2 separate regions of the Homo sapiens genome follow, and region 1 is linked to region 2. Evidence: fine-mapped expression QTL. Tissue or cell type: fibroblasts. Region 2 holds a variant in brackets; the other region holds the start of a gene. All regions are shown on one strand. Distances are between the middles of the regions.

Region 1 (10,540 bases), 140 kb after region 2:
TATTTTCCAAATTATGTAATTTTTATTTTGCAATCATAATCGTAAATAAGGTTTATCTAAAACTTGAGGTCAGATTACTCAATACTGTTTTTAGAAAATATCAACCACCGTCTTTCCCTTTGGTACAGATCTGATTGCTGCCCATTTTTCCCTCTCCTTATAAAGGCAGAGGCTACATGGGAAACGCTCCAGCCCAGGGGTTATGAACTCAAGTTATGTTCAGACTCTGGATCAGACTTTTCATTCTGGCATCACCACTCCTGGTCCTGGGACCTCAGGAAAGTTAGTTAACATCTGAATGCCTCAGTTTTCCCATAGGTAAGATGAGAACAAAAATGCTGTCTACCTCTCAGGAGCTGCTGTGAAGAATAAATGAGCACTTAGTGCTTGGCACGTAAAGGTTCAATAAAGGACAGCTACAGGTGGCTATGCAGACTGCATAGAGGGTAATAACTGCTTATTGTTGGATTTGGAAGACAGTAACCAACCAAGAGACCAGTTGTCTGTTAAATACCCAGTGGCCTAATAAAATTTAATTAACTATCTGAGCACTCACTAAGCAAGACTCTTTATTAAGATGATATTCAAGTAAGGGAGTCTAGAACTCAAGTTCCAGTTGAAACTCAAATTACAAAGTTGTAAAGGGAGTAGGTTAGGAGGAGGGGAAGCAAAGTACTTCTGGATTAATGGAAAGCAACATGGGCCCAAAAGGAAGCTAGATTTGTAGTGAACTCAACACTCTAGCAAACAAGTGGCAGAAATGCCTAATTAGTACACCCTGTCCAAGGCTGGGAATTGGCCTGAGAAAAGTGACCCAGACCACAGAAAAATCAGGCTAAGGATGACAGAGAAATTGAGTGACATTATGGGATTAACCAACACGAGGATTAAAAATAAAAAATAAAAAAAGTAACACAAACATACAAGAATCACTTGAGGAGTTTTTAAATGCATGCTTCTGAGAACCAACTGGTCTGAGGTGGAGTCCAGATAACTGTATTTTAAATTTTCACCAGTGATTCCGATGTACACCTCAGGCAGCACAAAGCAGGGGCTCAACAGTTTCAGTAGGAATAAACGATACATAAGTGAAAAGCTAGTGTACTCTGTTGAGTTTCAAATCATGAACCTGGAACAGGTGTAAGTGAACACAGGCCCAAGGTCCATAAAAGTCACTGCAATTGTTGGGGGAGGACAATAAGCCCAGGAAGGCATGAAAGGGAAATCAAGCCATGTGGCCTCACGTAAAACCATTAGAGCAGTGGTTCTCAAACTTGGCTAAACATGAGAATCACCTGGAGGGAGGAGGGGGTGTCTCAGCATCCTGATGCCCAGATCAAACCTCAAGTTTATTAAAACCAATTCTAGGAGTGACATCCAGGCATCAGAAGTTTAAAGCTCCAGGTGATTCCAATGTGCAACCAAGTTTGAGAAACACTGGGCTAGAGAGTTTCCAGGAAGTCAGCAGGTGTCTGGAATAGGGGGAAACACAAGGTAATAAGTGAGTAGTTCTCGAATTCCAATGTGTATTATAATCACATGGAAAGCAAATGTGGCTCATGGAAGAGGAAGAGTAGGTACTCTACAGCTTCATCAAATTCCCCAGGTGATTCTAACACATACCAAAGCTGGAGAACCATAGGTCCAAGTGGAGACAATTTCAAATGAGAAACTGAGGACTATGAACAAACAGCCCCATGGACAAGAACATTCCTATCCTTTCTAGGCCTGAGGAATGCAAGCTGAATCTAGGAGGTCTACTGAACACTGCCAGAATCAGTAAGCCTGTAAAGAGTCCAGCAGTAAAGCTAAAGGCACCACGGACTTCACACATAAGACTGCTTATACATCTTTAGCCTCAGAAGTCATCCTTCCAAACCACTCACAGCTGGCTCCTTGGTGGATGGCATAAAGAAAGCATGTGTTGCCACCTGCCTTCCAGAATTAAAGACTTGGCTTTTTAGGAATCCGGGAAAGTCACAAGCAATTAAACACACAGCAATAAGCAGAGCATACAACTCAGAAATTCTCATCACCGCATAGAAAGAAGAAACTCCAGGGCATATTAAAGTTACATTTGGAAGACCTGAACCTGGCGGTTCCCATCATGATCAGTTACATAGAGGGTCTGTAACCTAGGTTATAAAAATGTAACTTTTACTGATCAATGTCGCACGTTTTTTCTCAAAATACACGACCTAGCCTACTTACATGAGGTGCAGAGAAATTAGTCATAGCTTCACCTAGCTACAATGTAATAATATGGTACTTAGGAGGCGCTCCAACGTAGTGGTAACTATTCCATTTAGAATGTTACATCTGATAAGATTCAAGAGAATGCACTCCTGCACATATGACCAACTCATCATCCCATCAGAAATCTCTTATAACAGCACCAGAATTTTCATTTTCAAGATACATGAGCTTTTGTCAAATGGTGACATCTCCTCTGTAATATGAATTTTCAATACGATATAAAAAAAGATGGATATATTACACATTTCACAGAGCAAAGAGAACAGAAACCCGTCAATGAACTTAAAATTTGTGACAACCTATCTGAAATTTTACACTAAAAGATCTGTACACTTTCATAAGCCATATAAATGTAAAACAGGTACCAATGTTTTTACTGCCAAAAAGGAATAAAATATTCCTAACAAAGTTCGGTTGTTGCCTTAATATATTTTTAAAATGTATTTTCATTAACATTTCAGTTGTTAAAATGCAATGCTTTACACAACCTTCAAAGTGCAACTGATAAAAACTTGAAATCTATGTAATATACTTCAAAACAAAGCCACTGGCAGATTTTTTCCCCACCATTTCAGTCTGTGCACCAATCTTCAAATGTATGAACGTACAGGTCTTAGTGCAAAATGCAAGTCACTGTTTAAAAAAAGAAAACTTAATAAACACATTATTTTAAAGGTCATCCTAAGTGATTTAGATTTCTTCACTTGAACCTGGTTGCTCTAACAATCTACAGATCCCACTGTACAAAATGACTTAATAAATGCTTTTCTTCCAGAGTAAGTCATTAAGCAAAAAGCACAAATAAGTGAAATGAAAATTTTCCAAGTAATGGAGGAGTTAAATTAACCAGAAATATGGCAATTTGTTTTCATGTAGTAAAACATAAGAGGGAGCATTTATGAAAGCTGGAGGGGGGTGGAGGGGCACAATTTAGATAACGTTACATAAGCATCAATAAAAAAAAGTATGAGTTCGTTGTTAAGCTATTGGATGATAGTTTTGAGCTCAGACCTTTAAAATGTTACAACATTTAAGTCATGTTACTACACATAAATCATCTTCACAGGACACAGAACACAGCTAATTTAAGTTTAATGCTCTCATCTTCGCCAATCTCAGAATATCGAGTTCCTTACCATGATTGTTCGTTAGCTGTATCTTGGAATACAACTAAGTTAATTTTCCTAAAACTACCATCAGCAAAACCAGTTCACTAATGTGTTTTAAAGACGTTACCAAAGGACGTATTAAAATAGTTATTTCTGGGTTGAGGGGGGTGTTTTGGTTTAAAGACCAGCAAACTTCAAAAGAAAACGATGCTAGCTGGCAGGGGTACGTTACGGGTTTTGTCGGGGGCGGGGAGGGGGTGGAGGGAAGCCCAGATTTGGGAAGGAAAGCTCGTTTCACAAGAGATCCCATCTCTCGTTTCAAAAGGTCATTTCCATTCAGCAGATCCTCTTTCCCTATTTCAGAGCTCACCACTGTATTCTAAACAGAAGCCAATAGAGGGAGAAAAACAAAGCCAAGTGCAAAAGCTGTGGGCACTGAAAGTTTTGCTCCACCGGCCGCGCAGCACCCACTTGGGGTCGGGCTTTGGGACTTGGGGGAGTCAGGAGCAGGCGGGGGCTGGGGAGAGGACGAGGCCCTGGGGAGGGGCTGGAAAAGGCTTTTCACAGCGACTGGCACTTGATATTTCCAAGTCTTCTGGATGTCACTCACCGGAAACCAGACCCTGCGGTGCGAAGACTCAGGTACAGACCAGCCCCTTTTTCATCCATGCAATGGGAAGGGGACTCGGGCATCCTTTTAAGGAGCTGAGAAATGGGTCCTCAACTTAAAAATTTTTGTTTGTGCTACTGCGGTATAAAAAAAATAAAACGCAAAGTAGCAGACGGGGTGCAGGCTCTACGGGGCTCCGTTTCCCTCTCCTCCGAGTCTGGCGTGGAGGAGCCCCTGGGCTCCCTAGAGCCCCCAGCAAGGCGCATCCCGACCCGGGCCGGGAAGCGGGGGGACCCCGGACACACTCTCGCTGCTCAAGTTCGCGCCTCCGCGCCCCGAGGCGACGCCCCCGGCCCGCGACCCCGCGCGCACCTACCTTGCGCCAGCGCCCGGAGCAAGTGCAGCTGCAGCGCCAGCAGCGCCCACCAGCCGCGGCGGCCCGGCCCCAACTTTGCCGCCCGCCGCCCGCCGCACCGCCCCGCGCCCGCCGTGTCCCCGCCGGAGGTCTCGGGCGCCGCCCGGGGTCGCGAGGGCTCCGGGCCGGGGCGCGGCGCCAGCGAGGGGCGGGCGCGGCCGGGCGGGGATCCCCGCGGCCGCCCGGGGCCCGCGCGCTCAGGGGGCTCCGCGCCGCCGCCGCCGCCACCGGCCGCCGAGGGCCGGGCGCCCCGGGCCATGCCGAGCAGCCGCCACCCCGAGCGCCGCGCCGGACGGACGGGCGGGCAGGACAGGCGGGACGGCTCCGAGCGGGCGCGGCCACTCCGCGGGAGGCGCGGCGCCCCCCGGCCCGAGGTGAGCGGCCGCCCAGCGCTGAGGGGCGGCGTCCTGGGTCCCCGCGTGAGGGGCGCGGCGCGGGCCGGGGACGAGCCGGGCGAGAAGAAGTTGTCAACGGGGGAAATTCGCGTCCGGCGCTCACGCAGTCCCGAGCCCGCCGCGCTAGCTCCGAGGGGTCCGCCGGGCGCGGAGGAGCCGCCGCCGCCGCCGCCCCCGCCCGGCGCTGAGAAGAAAGTGCGCCCGCCCGCACGTCGCGGTCGCGCTCGCCCTCAGCTGCCGCGGCCGCCGCTCCCCATTCACAGCCCGGCCGCACGCGCCGCCCGCGCCCGCCGCCCGCCGCCCGCCGTTGATTGGCCGAGGGAGGCGGCGCCCGCTCCCAGGGCCCGCCCCCCAGGCCCTCGCTTGTTTTCAAAGTCGCGGCGCCCGCCCGCCTGCAATTTTGTGCCGGCCGCGGCGCCTGGCTCGGGCGGCTTCCCGCGCCGGCTGCGCCCCCTAGGGACCCGTAGTGGGGACTGCAGGCGGCGTCGATTCGGCACGCGCTCCCGTGGCGGGCTCGCGGGCGGGGGTGGTGCATCCTCGCCCGGCCCCGCAGCGGTGCGGGCGCCCGAGTGGGAAGGGCTCAGGTGCAGCAGGACGCGCAGATCGTGCGGCAGCCCAGGGCCGAGGGCGGAATAGGGCGCGCCCCGAGAGGCGCCCGGCTACCACCAGCTAGCTCAGTGCTTGGGGGTGACGCGCCAAGTTACCGTAATTGCAAACACGCGCAATCGGGTTTTTAATTTCTAGCAACCAAAGGCACCACTGGGTGCAAACTCGCCTCCTGTTCAGAGGAGTGGATATGGCATTGTAGAAGCGTCCAAGGTCACTTTTGGCCGGCGCTGGAGGAGGGCGGGGTAGGGAGGGACACATTGCAGGTTTCCCACCGTGGAGTGGGCGAGTCTTGGGGCAGGGTCGGCCAGTGGGAGGGTCTCCCAGGGCGGGACCCGGGAGCCTGTGGGGCTGGGGGTGGGGACGGGCGCCGACGCTCAGCATGTGGTAAGCATTAGCAGAGTTTATGGGGTGAACTAAGCGCACTGGAGGCTGAAAGGCCAGCATTTTTGTGGGAGGAGAGCTGGAGGTGACACGCACTGCCTCTGGAGTTGGCCCGGGAGGAGCCTGGGGACGTGTGATGATGGTCGCATGAGATCATGTAAGAGATGAACGCAGAGGGGCTGGGTGTGAGCCCAGCACGGGGCTGACTCCCCAGGAATCACCTGATGCAGTAGGTTTATTGTCCCAGCCAAGAAAGACCCCGGGCGAGTGGAGAGCAGGTCACAGGGCTGGGGTCTGGGATAGGAGCCAGCTCCTGCTCACAGAGCGCCTATGGTATTTGTCAAATAACTGATTGGTGGCTCAATATTAGCCTCTGTACACGTCCCCTAAGACTTAACAATGACCACGTGAACAAAACAGGGAAACTGAGGTCCAAGTACAGCCGCCGAACAGGAGGTGGTTTCAGAAAGAGGCCTCCCATCTGCCCCCTTTCCACACCATGCTAGGAGGGGCAAAAAAGTTAAAGGAGCCACGGAGTGCCCTGTTCTGAGGATATAGTGAGGGCGCATAGATGGGACGAGCCGGAAGAGGACAGCTCCCCAAGGACATGGGGATGAGACTGGAGGCAGAGAGGCATGTCTGTTTTTATCTTCTGTTGGTAGCAAGGCTGGGTTTCTTCAAACTTGCAAGATTATAATGAGAACCTGCTGGGCGGGGGGAAGCAATACCTCCTGTGCAGTGAGCACTCACTGTAGGCCAGCCCAGGGCAGCAGCAGCAGCAGCTTCACTACCTGCTGTGTGAGAGGTGCTGGCCCTGGTACAGATGGAGAAACTGAGGCATAAAGAAGTGGGCCGGGCGCGGTAGCTCACACCTGTAATCCCAGCACTTTGGGAGGCCGAGGCGGGCGGATCACTTGAGGTCAGTTCAAGACCAGCCTGGCCAACATGGTGAAACCTCGTCTGCAGTTAAAAAAAAAAAAAAGAAAAGAAAAAAGAAAGAAGAAAATGAAGAAGAAAGACAGAAGAAGAAGATGATTAGCCAGGCGTAGTGGCGTGCGCTTGTAGTCCAAGCTACTCGGGAGGCTGAGGCAGGAGAATTGCTTGAACCTGGGAGGTGGAGGTTGCAGTGAGCCGATACCTTGCTACTGCACTCCAGCCTGGGCGACTGAGTGAGACTCTGTCTCAATAAATAAATAAATAAATAAATAAATAAATAAATAAATAAATAAATAAAGGAAGTGAAGTGTTTTGCCCAAGGTCGGGAGCTCACCTCCCTTCCTCTTCACCCCAACCACCTCTGCTTTGCTGGGAGATAGAGGCTGGTGATCCAAGAGTGGAGTCATGGGGCTTTGAGGTCTCACTCAGCTCCGCCCTTTGTAGTTGTGAAATTTGGGCAAATCGCTGACTCCAAGTTCCTGTAAAAAGTTAGGAATAATTCCCATCTCCAGGGTAGTAGACAGAGTGAGATAATTCACACTCAGTAAATGCTGGTTTTCCTTTCCCTCTACTAACGTGGCAATCCTTGTCCCAAACTACCCTTGCTCTCCCCGCCATTTGAGTTTGCTGCACATTTAACCTTTTCCTCTCCAGTATCGATCTATATCCACCACTTTCACGTAGAAACCTGTGCCCATATACCGCTCCAGTCCACATAGGCACGAACATAACTCAAGCAACTTCTTGACTTTAGGACACGTCAAAATTACCCAGAGCCTCTTTTGCCATGACTTATTTTGCAGGTAGCAGAAAGCTTTGTGGAAACTTGCTTGGAAATTGGAAAGCCAAGTTAGTATACACCAGGTTATAAGAGATCAGTGACCAGGCCAAGTGCAGTGGCTCACGCCTTTAATCCCAGCACTTTGGGAGGCCAAGGTGGGTGGATCACTTGAGGTCAGGAGTATGAGACCAGCCTGGCCAACATGATGAAACCCCATCTATAGTTAAAAAATAAATAAATAAATAAATAAATAATTAATTAGCTGGGCGTGGTGACGGGCGCCTGTAATCCCAGCTACTAAGGAGGCTGAGGCAGGAGAATCGCTTGAATCCAGGAGGTAGAGGTTGCAGTGAGCCGAGATCGTGCCACTGCACTCCAGCCTGGGTGACCCAGTGAGTCTCTGTCTCAAAAAAAAAAAAAAAAAAAAAAAAAAAAAAGACAGATCAGTGACCTCACTGTTACTACAGAAGGTCTGGAAACCTCTCCAAGAAATTTTTTTTTCTTCCTATCCCAATATCAGCCTTGAGAAATAAGGTTCTACTCTAATCTCCATTCTACAGTTGGAGAAGCCAAGCCTAGAAAGTTTAATACATGCGAAGCAACCGTGCTAAAGCCAGAACAAGCATCCAGCTCTCCTGAGTCCTGTTCTGAGACTTGTTTTTCCTCGCCCCGACCATGTTGCTTTTCACAGGACCTATTAGGTTACCATTTTGGGGCCTGTGTTTAGACTACAGCTATTCTTTCTCAAACAATAATACAGAGAAACCCCTTTATAATGCTGGGGAGGGGAGACAGCCAGGAGGGGGCTGGAATATTTCTGCCCTTAAGGCCAGTGAATCTCTCAACTTCATTTTGCCCAGCCCTACAAGAGGGCCTCAAGAAGTGAGCATTTTATACCTGCATACTTGCCATTAAAAATTGTAACCATATACGCTAAAGGCCATGAGGTGGAGGGATGTTACTCCATGAAAACTGATTATTATTATTTCCCCTTCTTCTTCTTCTCCTCCTCCTCCTTCTTCCTCTTCCTCCTCCTCCTCTTCTTCCACTTATTCGTCTTCTTCCTCTTCCTCTTCTTCTTCCTCTTCCTCTTCCTCCTCCTCTTCTTCCACTTATTCATCTTCTTCCTCTTCCTCTTCTTCTTCCTCTTCCTCCTCCTCTTCCACTTATTTGTCTTCTTCCTCTTCCTCTTCCTGTTCCTCTCCTTCTCCTTCTTCTTCTCCTTCCCCCAATGAGCCCTGGCCATCTCCTACTTTCCAGAATAAGAAGTTAGAATTTTCCCTGCTTAATTAAAAAGAGAGAAGGAAGAGTTTTCAAAACAGATGATAATTTTCACGTCGTTAGGATGATCCATGAAACCAGCAGTGCTTTCCCTTGTTGTGATTTAAAGCCTGCTGCTCCAGGTATGGCCCGTGGGCCATCTACCTCACCTGGGAGCTTGTTAGACATGCAAAATCTCAAGCCCAGTCCCGGACCTGCTGACTCATACTCTGCATTTTCAAAGATCTCCAAGTGATTCCTGTGTAAATGAAAGTTCGAAAATCACTCATCAATCCCGTTGAGTCTGAGGAATATAATAGAGCCCTCATTCCTCTTTTGCTTCATTCTGTCCTTTCTCCTCCTTTTTCTTATGGGCCATCACATAAAAGAGAACCTTTTTTAAATGATAGAAATATTTTTATTTTAAAAGGACAATTTGCAACTTTCTAGAACATCAGTAGCTTGAACTGTATACCAATTCAAAACCAAAAGCATCTGTATGGCACTGTGAAAAAAAACTAACAAACTGGAGAAAATGTTACTATCTATGTTAGTCAATAAGACTTACAGCTTTTATGAGTCAATAAGAAAAATAGATGAACAAGCCCTATAGAAAAATGAGCAGAGGCTGGGTGTGATGGCTCAGGCCTGTAGTCCCAGCACTTTGGGAGGCCAAGGAGGGAGGATCACTTGAGCCTAGGAGTTTGAGACCAGTCTGGGCAACATAGTGAGACCCTCATCTCTCAAAAAAATATATAAATAAATAAATTATCATGTGTGTGTAGTCCCAGGTACCCTCGAGGCTAAGGTGGGAAGATCACTGGAGCCTGGGAGGTTGCAGTGAGCCATGATTGTGCCACTGCACTCCAGCCAGGCCACAGAGCGAGACTCCATCTCAAAAAACAAAAGACCAAAGAATAGTAACAGGCAGAGAGATATAAAGAGAAAATAAATGAAGAGATGCACCAAGAAATTGATTTTTTTTTTTTCTGAGACAGAGTCTCACCTGTCACCCAGGCTGGAGGGCAGTGGTGTGATCTCGGCTCACTGCAACCTCCTCTGCCTCCCAGGTTCAAGCGATTCACCTGCCTCAGCCTCCTAAGTAGCTGGGATTACAGGCTCATGCCACCATGCCCGGCTAATTTTTGTATTTTTAGCAGAGACGGGGTTTTGCCATGTTGGCCAGGCTGGTCTTGAATCCTGACCTTAAGTGATCCACCTGCCTCAGCCTCCCAAAGTGCTGGGATTACAGGCGTGAGCCACCGCGCCCAGCCAGAAATTGATCTTAACAGTGAAAAATTAAAGCAACGAGGCTTGTAAAAAATGTTTAAGGACTGACTGATAATGGCAAATGTGTGGTAAGACTATGAGGAAATGAGCATTCATTTATTCTTAGTGTAAGTACAAACTAAACAGCTGCCGTGGAGAGAAACCTGCAATCCATAGTTAAAATTTATTTGTTTGTTTTTTGAGACAGAGCTCGCTCTGTCACCCAGGCTGGAGTGCAGTGGTGTGATCTCGGCTCACCCCAACTTCTGCCTCCCAGGCTCAAGCGATTCTCCTGCCTCAGCCTCCCGAGTAGCTCAGATTACAGAGGCGCGCCACCATGCCTGGCTAATTTTTGTATTTTTAGTAGAGATGGGTTTCACCATGTTGGCCAGGCTGGTCACGAACTCCCAACCTCAGGTGATCTACACACCTTGGCCTCCCAAAGTGCTGGGATTACAGGCATGAGCCACTGTGCCCAGCCGGTAGTTAAACTTTAAATATGAATTGTCTTTGATCTAT
Region 2 (10,540 bases):
AATACAACCTTGTTTCCAAAATGTATATTCTCCACTTAAAAGAGAGGTCTTAGGAGGATAGTGTAGGCTCACTCTCAAGGATAAATATGTCCTGAACTGTCTTTCAGAAAGGGTTAATTTGCAATGACCCAGTTACCATTCCATTTGTGGTCTTTATGTAACTGATCAACATGGGTGTCACCTATGGTGGTAATGAATGATCCAGCTACCTGACACATACACGAGTTGAACCTTGGCTTCCTTACTATAATCAATACTCCTTTAGAAAAATGCGGAGCTTTAACATGAAAGGCTATGTGCTATAAAAGACATGGCTATCTAAGTACATATGGCACCCTGATCTCTTTCCTTCATAACTAGAATTAGGCTGCTCCCAATAATAATGGCTTAATCTTCTTTTTTGGAGAATGTGGATATTCCTGAACCTCTGGCTTAAATCTATCATAATCTCACCCAAAATGCCCACCATCTGGCAGGTACCAGCAGGCTAGGTGAGTACACGTAACGGTCAACTGGCATCTGTGGCGTGAGGATGCTTGTGGAGAGCTGCTCTGGATAAGGCATCCCGTATTCATACCTATCATATTAAGTGGGGATTTTGTGGAGAATCACTCAGGCAAATCAAGCAAAAAGACCAATTCCCAGTGTTCTGCTTAATGTAATTTCAAGGTACCCTAAGTATCACTTTTGGTTTATGATCGGTGACACTGAGTGGTTTACATTTTAAACGCAGATAATGGTTTTACATGTGAGAGACTCAGAAATGACTCGATGTTGTTAAGATGTCTATTCTACCCAAATTGATTTACAAGATCCAATGCAATCCCAGTCAAAATCTCAGGATATCTTTTGGTAGAAACTAACAAGCTGTTTCTAAAAAGGAAAACAAAGTTGGGAGGCTAATGATACCTGACTTCAGGAATTATGATGAAGTGACAGCAATCAAAATAGAGTGGTTGCAAAGAGACACAAATGTATCAACGGAACAAAACAGAGTCCAAAAATAGATCCACACATACATGGACAAGTGATTTCCAAGAAAGTGAATAGGCAATTCAGTGAAGGAAGGGAAGCCTTTTCAACAAATGGTGCTGGAACAATTCATGTACACACACAAAAAGAGATTTTGGTTTTTTTTTGTTTGTTTTTTGTTTTTTTGAGATTTTGGATCCACACATGTCATGATGTACAAGAGTCCTCCTTATCTGCAAGAGATACATTCAAAGGCCCCAGTCAATGCCTGAAACCAGATAGTACTGAACCCTATATATACTGTTTTTTCCTATTCATATTTACCTATGATACAGTTTAATTTATAAATCATAAAATAAAATATTAACAATAACTAGTAATAAAATAGAATTATAACATACTGTAATAATAGTTATGTGAACATGGGCTGTCTCAAAATATTTCACTGTACTATACTCACCTTTCTTCTTGTAATGATGTGACATGGTACAATGCCTATGTAATGAGATGAAGTAGGGTGAAAGACGTATGCATTGTGACGCAGCATTAGGCTACTACTGATTATCTGTATTCTTGAATCTGTGTAACTATCCCTCACTTGGTGTAACTCATTTCAAGGGATCCCTTGCTCAAGTCGTCATATAGGCTGAATGATTCTGGCACAACACATTGCTGTCAATTGGAACATCTTTTTGGTTCGTATCTTCCACTCACAAATTTACCTTTCCACCTTAACTAAGCACTTAATACACATTGTGGCCATAACTTTTGCAGTTTGAGGTGCAACAGCAAGACCAGCATAAATTTACTTGTCCTGTTTCACAATTTCATGGATAGATTTGTTCTTAATCTTAGCAACCTCAGCATATTTTTCTCTTTCCTTCTTAAGTCAAGAACGTTCACCTTTTCATTTAAAGGAAGCACTTTCTATCTTCTCTCTGGCACATCCTAATTGCCAACAACACTACTCCTATACTTTGTGGTCATTATTAATTAAAATAAGGGTTACTTGAACACAAGCACTGAGATACTGCAACAGTTGATCTGATCACTGTGAACCTCAAAGAGCAAATCCCTCAAGATGAATCCTGAGGGGCTAACTGAGTCTAATGGTCACACATGTACCCCAAGTTTCCAGAAAACCTACACATCTGTTTAACTCCGAACCTTCGCAGCTTACCATTCCTGTTCAGGCCACCTGAACCAACAGACTGTATAGCCTGCACCAACCAATCAGAAATCACTTGCACTGAGCAACCTGAACTAAGCAAGGTGGACTCCTTCATTTGAAAAAATATACCTGAATGCAAACCTGGGCAGAAAGATGCTCTATAAAAGCTCCATCCTTCCTTTGTTCTCTGGAATACACCTTCATTTTACAGGGCACAAGGGATGGTGCGAGATTCCATCACACTACTCAGGACGGTGCACAATTTAAAACTGATGAATTATTTACTTCCGGATTTCCATTTAATGTTTTCGGACCACAGGTGACTGAAACTACAAAAAAATGAATATGCAGGTGAGAGGGGACTACTGTGAATATGTCAAAGCATATCAAATTATATATCTTAAATATTTCCCATTTACTATATTTCAATTATATCTCCATAGAGCTATAACTTAAAAAAAAAGTCCAGCACAGGGTAGTTTGGGAGTTAATGTAATTATTATCCCAATCTGACCTGCCTCAGGGCATCTGAGGACAGCACAGTGCCCTCTAGTAAGCAAGGAGGTCTTCAAGGGTGTAGTTAAAGCTGTCATGGCCATTCTCACTATCTTCCTCCCACAAAGCTGGTGGCTTTAAATCATGATCATAAAGCTAAATCATGTATAAATGACAATGTTTTTTCTGTTCTATAAAGCAAGCTGTATCTTATCCAAAAGTGCATCAGATCATTAAGAAACAAATTCAAAAAGAGAAATGTACTGACTTTTTAAATCCCATTAGAAAGTATTAACTATGCCATCCCAGGACATTCCCACAACAGTGACTCACAGAGGCATTCCCTTACAGATTCAGAATGAGTAGTATGTTGCAATCTGGATTTAGCTTATGCTTCTTGGCACATTAACTGATTGCTGTCCACTGAGTCTTAGGAAAGGTTGACCAAACCCGAAACAATCTAACATTACTCTTCACTAGTGCTCTAGAGGCTTGTAAGGAGCGCAACAGTAGTCTCTAGAGGAACAGCTGCATCCGGAGCTTGCATGCTACTCATATATGATGACTTGAGAAACATTAGCTTTATTGGTTTTTAAGCAAGAAAGCGACACACGTTTTAGATGAAATGTTCACTCAGGGGAAATAAAAGAGTTTATTTATCTAAATAGGTTAACTATATTGTGTCTAACCACCACCCCAAAAATGTGATGAACTGCACATTTGAGATGTTGGATAATTAATAGAAAGGGGGGCCGGGCATGGTGATTCACACCTGTAATCCCAGCACTTTGGGAGGCTGAGGCAGGCTGATCACGAGAGGTCAGGAGTTTGAGACCAGCCTGGCCAACGTGGTAAAACCCCATCTCTACTAAAAATACAAAAGTGAGCTGGGCGTGGTAGCAGGCAACAGTAATCCCAACTACTCGGGAGGCTGAGGCAGGAGAATCACTTCAACCCAGGAGGCAGAGGTTGCAGTGAGCCAAGATCGCACCACTGCACTCCAGCCTGGGCAACAAGAGTGAAACTCCATCTCAAAAAAAAAAAAAAAAAAAATATTAATACAAAGGGGAAGAAAACAGGGTTGCTGCCAATGATGGAACTTAGTAAAGTATAAACTTTTCAGGATAAAGACAGATGAGTTGTTTGAAGTGAAAGGAGAAGATTCCAAGGACAGAAAGATTAAGAGTTTACTGAGGAAAGAAAGAATCAAAAACTTGGGTTGGCAATAGAGATGAGAGGTCCCACACCAACTAAGTGACAGCCCCAGATTGAAGCCAGACACCGTCCACTCCAGAGCCCATGTTCTTAACCATCCTACTGACCAACTCCTGCATGCCATCAGCAGCACTGACACATGGGCCTTCACAATGGACACTTCATGAGACTGGCAGTGTCTCTGCAGCTGTCCTCACTGTGTAGACAGCACAGATAAGACAGAAATAGCGGCCACAGAAAACGTAACATTTATGAAGCTTCTCTCATATGTAAATGTTAGAATCTAGAATACATCATTGTAAAGAAGAAATTATTTCGAATACACAGCATATTCTATTTTCTCTGTCTTCACATGAAGGTGATAGATATAGCAGAGACAACAGGCACATACTATAAAATGATTACCCTAGTTAAATGTTTTTATGCAGAAGTCATATTCATTGGGAATATAAAATAATATAGGTCTTAGCAGCAAACGTTCAGTTTAGTATTAACTATGATACATAAAATAAAATGAACAAAAAGACCATGCAATGCAGAACATTAAAAGCACTCTGGGGCAAAGGCAGGATGCAGGGGGCTAGGTCAAGAGATCTGGGGTGCGGGTTAGCTGTAAATAACTTAATTATTCCAAGTCCATTTCTTCATCTATAAAATGCAGAATAATTCCACTTGCCCCAACAATGTCTCAGGTCTTAGAGGATTAAATGAGAGAGTGTAAAAGAAACTGCCAAGGCTCATACACAAACGTAGGGGGAGTATTCTCATTACCACTGCGTTCTCTCTTTCAGAGATGTCAACTACGTAATCCCTTCACTTGGTTTCAGTACTACAAAAGATGGAACTTCTATTCAGCCAAAGCTTCCACTAAGGTATCTGAATAATTTTTTGGTATCCTTAATCATATCTAATTTTTTTAGTATTATTAATTTTTTGGCAGAGACAGGATCCGACTCTGTCACCCAGGCTGGAGTGCAGTGGCACGATCACAGCTCACTGAAACCTGAAACTCCTAGCCCTGCCCCCTGAAATAGGTGGGACTACAGGCGCGCACCATCACATCCAGCTAACTTTATTTTTTGTAGAGAAGGGGTCTTGCTGTTGCCCAGGCTGATCTCAAACTCCTGACCTCAAGCAATCTTCCCACCTCAGCTTCCCAAAGCTCTGAGATTACAAGTGTGAGCCACTGCACCCAGCCGATCACACGTAATTTTGACTGCTGGCACATGAAATAGAGGATTACTGGTTTGTAAATTTTCACATCTTTTTTTAAAGTTTGCTCTCTACACACTGCAAAACATTAGTGACATTATGCTAAAACATTCTTTATAGAAACTCGCATTTTGTCCTTACAAATGATTACACTGATTTTTTAATTCCACCCCAAGGCCCACCCCTCAAATCTGGGAAATAACAATGTTATAAGACTTTTTAAGAGAAAAAAAAACTTTTATTACTTACCACTCAGGTTTTCAGACATATTTTTTGCATTGGAATATCTCCTTTCACCCCTGAAGGGTACTGAACAATAAAGGTGAAGGACTACAGTAAAATGTCCCGTATTGATTTTTAAAGGATGTATTAATCGTCTTTTAGTGTCATGAGATCATGTGGAAAGAAAAGCAATGTGAAATCAGACCAGGCTCTCCTGGACTGATAGAGGAGCAGCCGCTGCCCCTTACATATATAACCCAGGAAATTTTTTTTATTGTGACTAATCCGTTAGACATTCTATGTTCTACATTTTTTGCTCAATAAAATAAATAAATAATGAGGTAAAGATACACTTTCATTACAGAACATTCTATTGTCTATGTAGGTTCTTGGGGAGGGTAGACGAGTTTTTAAAAGGCAGTTTAACATTCTTCTGGCTCTTATTCACAACTCTAGACTACAGATTTCAGGGAAAGGGGAAGACAGTGAGGACAAAGAATCTGTTCTAATTTAAACATTCTTCACGATTTAGTGGCAATTACTTCTTTTAAGGTT[C/T]AGTCACCTTCAAAATATTACACGATAAAAATAAGAGAAAAATATTACATGGTTCATAGCCAAGAACATTAATAAGAGTACTTTCTAAAGTATAATCATTATTTTCATTTTCTATTTAAAATTTTTCATTTTTTATCACCTCAGTTGCCAAATTTCAATCTTCATTGATTAAAAACACAGCAAAACTCCTTGCATACAGATTTATTCAGGTTTGCAAACATTAAATCATCATTAGATTAGAATGACAAGCATGACAAAATTAATACAGCAGAAGAGGTTCAGGGAAATATAAAATCTAAAATGTATTGAATTAGGTTTTAAATTGAACCCATACAAGCTTAAGTTCAATGAAAACCAATATTGCACACTTTTTAATCAATTATTTCGTAATCATCCCTCTAAATCCTTTAATTTACCGAGAAATCCTATCTAAAAAGTTTTCTAAAGTCAGCCATAAAATACCACTGAAATGCAAATTGGGTCTAAACTTCCACTAAGTCCATCAAATGTCAGCTTACTTCATCAAATCACTTTACATAAATGAATCTTAAAAATGTCTTCAGTGTTCATTAATGTTACAATTAAGAACCATATTATATTGAAAATAAAACAACCTATTTTGAACAATCATGGATTTAAACTCTTTAAAATAACTTATCATGCAAATCACATGATATTAAGCTCATTTATAACTTCTAAACAGAATTTAAACCTCTCCAAAGTTAATGTTTAGGCCAGAGCAACAGTTCTGCTTTTTCAACTACATCCAATAGAAGAACCTTTGTTGCTTCCTTTAACACAATCTTGTTAACAAATGATCACTGGAGAGGTTAGGGCTGGAAATATAAGTTTGAGAGTAAGTAATCATTGTAAATCCATGAGAAAGCATGAGGGACGTAGAGACTGAATACGAGCAGAGCAGAGAACAAGCCACAAGATGTCCCTTAGAAGACAGGCAGTGGGAGTTGGACTTAGGTGGGGCATGTAAAGTAGGATAGAGATGAGTTACCCTTCACTTCCTCTTTAAAAGCCCCCACAGAGTGCAGTGGCTCACTCCTGTAATCCCAGCACTTTGGGAGGCCGAAGCGGGCGGATTGCCTGAGCTCAGGAGTTCGAAACCAGCCTGGACAACACGGTGAAACCCCGTCTCTACTAAAATACAAAATAATAATAATAATAATCATAATCATAATCATAATAATTAGCTGGGCGTGACTGTCTGTGCCTGTAGTCCCAGCTACTCAGGAGCCTGAGGCAGGATAATTGCTTGAACCCGGGAGGCAGAGGTTGCAGTGAGCTGAGATCAAGTCACTGCACTCCAGCCTGGGCAACAAAGCAAGACTCCGTCTCAAAAAAAAAAAAAAAAAAAAAAAAAAAGGCAGTCCCCTTCATAAGTCAAGTATCAAAATAGGTGGATTTGGTGATCACACTGGAATAGATCTCTCCAGTATAATCTGTTTTAATGCCTAATATTTTGCTTTCTCCCAATCACTATCTTCCATAAATAATGAGAAAAAGATTTCAAAAAAAAAAATACAGAGACTTTTGCAAAATTATTAAGAATCACAATAACTAAGAAATCTTTAATTTATTTGAAGCTGAACAAGTTGCAATGAACTAATCAGAAAAAGAATTACATAATTTGGTACTTTTGGGATATAACTTTGTATCTTATTAATGGGATCCAGACGGAGATTTGACAGTTAGGAAAAGTATTCAAAAATTGTTGTAAAATTTTACTTCATCATCTTTCCTCTAGAAAACTCACCTGTGAGATGAGAAAACATGAAATAAACACTGCGATGAAATGGCCAATTCTAACCTGTATCTCAGTTTTCTGGGCTCAATGAGGAGTCTTGGCAGGCTCCACTAGGGTGTGCTCTGTCCCCCCCCATGATTCTATCTACACTCCCTGCAGATGGTTCCAACTCTGAACCCCAAAAGCAGATAGGCCTGGGTTAATGATGGCAACAACTCACACCTCACAGGGAGGCAAATCGAGAGAACTGGTTAAAACCATCCACACTCGGTAAAGTTGGCTTGGGCTGAAACCCCAGCTTGGTTACTTAGCTGGCAAAATGACCTTAGGTGAGCTACTTAACATCTTTGAGCCTGAGCCAGAGATGTCCCATCTACAAAATGGAGATAATACTTAAGGAGCTGTGAGGATTAAAATGAAAAACATGCAAGATCCTTAATAAATGTTAGCTGTAGTTATGACACTCCGTCTTCTCCAAGAGAAGTGGTTGGCACGCGAGCTACGCAAACTTCCTCAGGGTAAACCACAGTGGCGTAGGGCACATAGCCTCAAAACAACAGGGAGGACACCTAAGTAAAAAGTCCACCTCATATACCAAAACCAAGGCGAACAAGGTGGAAATTCTCTTACAGGCTCCTGATGAAAGAAAAATCATGTTGACATATTCATCTGCATTAGAAGAATTTTAAAACATGATTTCCTAATCTTCTCTCCATCACGCTGACTCTTTGGCCTGGTAGAGTGAGTAGTACAGCTACTGAGCCTTCAAAAAGAGAGGAAAAAAAAATCATCACAAAATACGCCAAAATTACCAGCAAGAACAGGTCATAAGATGAGCCCATATGGATAGATTTTGCCTTGTTTCTGTTTCATTGTTGCACCTCCTTCTATTGACTGCACAAATGGAACACTACTTTAAATCATCAGATCTGTGGGATGAAAATTCTTAACACTTCCTTCTTAATGCATTGCGGTAGTTATGCGCAAAGTATCCTAACAAAAGTTAAACTTATTAATAAATCATTATATTTACAATATCATGACTTTCATGTAAAACTGTGTCTAAAACACATATTTCTGAAGTCAACCACGGCTTGTATGTACTCTGTAAGGTTGTCAAGCTTGTGATTTACAAGAGCCATGTTCAAGATGAGAACGTCTCAAATTTACAATAGTATTCTTTTTTCCTCCAAGCACTGACTATTGCTCTTAAAATTTTTCTGAATCAATTGAGCTGGAATGACAAAAAGATTTCCAACATGTTTGTATTTGATGTTGGTCCCTAAAGCCTGCCATACAAAGATTAACCATTTCTTGGCCAGCCAGTCTTTAATGTAGCAATTCACTTAGTCATTGTGCTAGAAAATTGTTTCTATTTCATATAAACCTAAGGAAGAGGAAGAAGAAATAGGGAAAGAGAAAAAGGAGGAGATGCAGACACAGAAAGAGAAAAAGAGGAGAGTTTACCAACCAAATACAATAATCCAGGAACCTTCCTTACCTCTTCTGGAGAAAAGAAATAAAAACAACTTCATCCAATAAAATAAAATAAAATACTACTGGAAATAAAAACTTCAACCCCTCCTCTCAAGAGACGAAATGACTAAACCAAATATCAACTAACACACACCTTTTGAAGTGTGAAAGCATGTGTAGATTACAGCAGTCTGGTTTAACATTCACTTGAAGCTGGTTGAAACTAGAGGGTTGAGGCAGATAACTAGATAATGTGGACGAAGCCAGGCATATTCTCTGACCTCCATCTGGTTTCACTTGGACTTGCTAAACACCGTACTGTCACACTTAGAATCCACTGGTCAACTTGAATTATGTTGACTGGAATCTCTGGGGATAGGTTTTGCAACCACGAAGAATCCTTGTTTGAGAAAATCTTCCTCTAAAATGAATGAAAAACTGCGTAACTTGGATAGAAACCTCAACACCAATATAAAAGAATTCAAAGATTCTAGTCACTCTCTTCTGTAAGTGAATATTTACAAGTTAGTAATAACATGCTATGAATCTGTACAAGAATGAGGCTCAGCCATGAAATTCTTCCTAGAAAAGCAATTTTTCAGGCTGGTTTAGGAGAAATCTCTTTCAGATGAAGAAAAATTCTATTTGTGGATTATAAAAGAATTTTGTTGCCATATTTGTGGAGGGAAACTGACTCTTTCAAAAGCAACTTAAATGTGGGTATCCATCTATTTCACAACCGGATCAATCAACACTCTTCTATGACAGTGCAGGCTACAGTCTACACTGGGAAGACAGCAAACCTAGGTTCCTATTAAAATTCAAGTATTACCTTGAGCCAGACACAGGTTTTTCTATGCGAAACCTAGCAAAATATGTTTCTTCCCTTCGGTAGTAATCTTTTAAATAACTAAAATAGTTACCTAAATTCAACATGAATATATAACAAACTACTATTTCTTCCTACTACATTAATCCTTTGAGCTTGTTTACATGTTAGCTTTTAGGATATTTTGCCCCCTGGAGAATTCACATCTAGGAATAAGATTGCCATAGTACAAATCAACCTTTTGACACTGCTACATCAAAATTCTAGTAGCAACAGATAAACTGAAACTGCCTACAGTCATTCTTGACTGGGGCAGGATGACATGCTGCCAGTGTCCCAATGCCACGACCAATTTGATGATACTAATGTCATCACGATAGCCAAAATACAGCACAGTTGGCACTAATGTCATTCTTAACCTGGAAAAAGTTCACCCCAAAATCTTCAGGTATGGGGATATATATATATATAAAAATATATATTTTTTAAATATAAAATACATATATATATTTTTTTTTTTTTACTGCAGCCTGCAAAGCTCTGTTTACAAAGTATTTCACACAGACTGACTGAGTTATTGTCATAATTTTATGAGACAAAAAGTCATGTTAGTCTCACTCTATTCAACGGGTAT

Which allele goes with the higher level. Positions count from the first base shown, and alleles are read on the strand shown. Sizes are in standard deviations (SD) of each study's normalised expression.
In carriers of allele T in region 2, the expression in fibroblasts of the gene that starts at base 4,984 in region 1 tends to be higher than with C alone (moderate effect, 0.65 SD a copy in GTEx).

What was found. PIP is the estimated chance that this variant, and not a neighbour inherited with it, causes the effect.
Region 1: it holds the start of SDK1, and the variant in region 2 is fine-mapped to the expression of SDK1 in fibroblasts (GTEx, PIP above 0.99).

The regions. Positions count from the first base shown.
Region 1 is chr7:3,295,696-3,306,235 of GRCh38, reverse strand. SDK1 (sidekick cell adhesion molecule 1) reads right to left here and starts at 4,984. Exons shown (of 45, transcript NM_152744.4): 1 at 4,352-4,984. The coding sequence starts at 4,649. SDK1-AS1 (SDK1 antisense RNA 1) reads left to right here. Exons shown (of 3, transcript XR_001744897.3): 1 at 1-4,007. RefSeq lists enhancers at 4,183-4,683, 5,393-5,904, 5,905-6,417 and a silencer at 4,958-5,507.
Region 2 is chr7:3,432,001-3,442,540 of GRCh38, reverse strand. All of the region lies in intron 1 of SDK1 (sidekick cell adhesion molecule 1), which reads right to left. LOC124901577 (a long non-coding RNA gene) reads right to left here. Exons shown (of 2, transcript XR_007060196.1): 1 at 8,232-10,540; 2 at 1-2,472. Among named protein-coding and RNA genes, the nearest start is that of SDK1-AS1, 85 kb to the right of the region's middle. The variant C/T (reference allele first, on the strand shown) is at 5,843.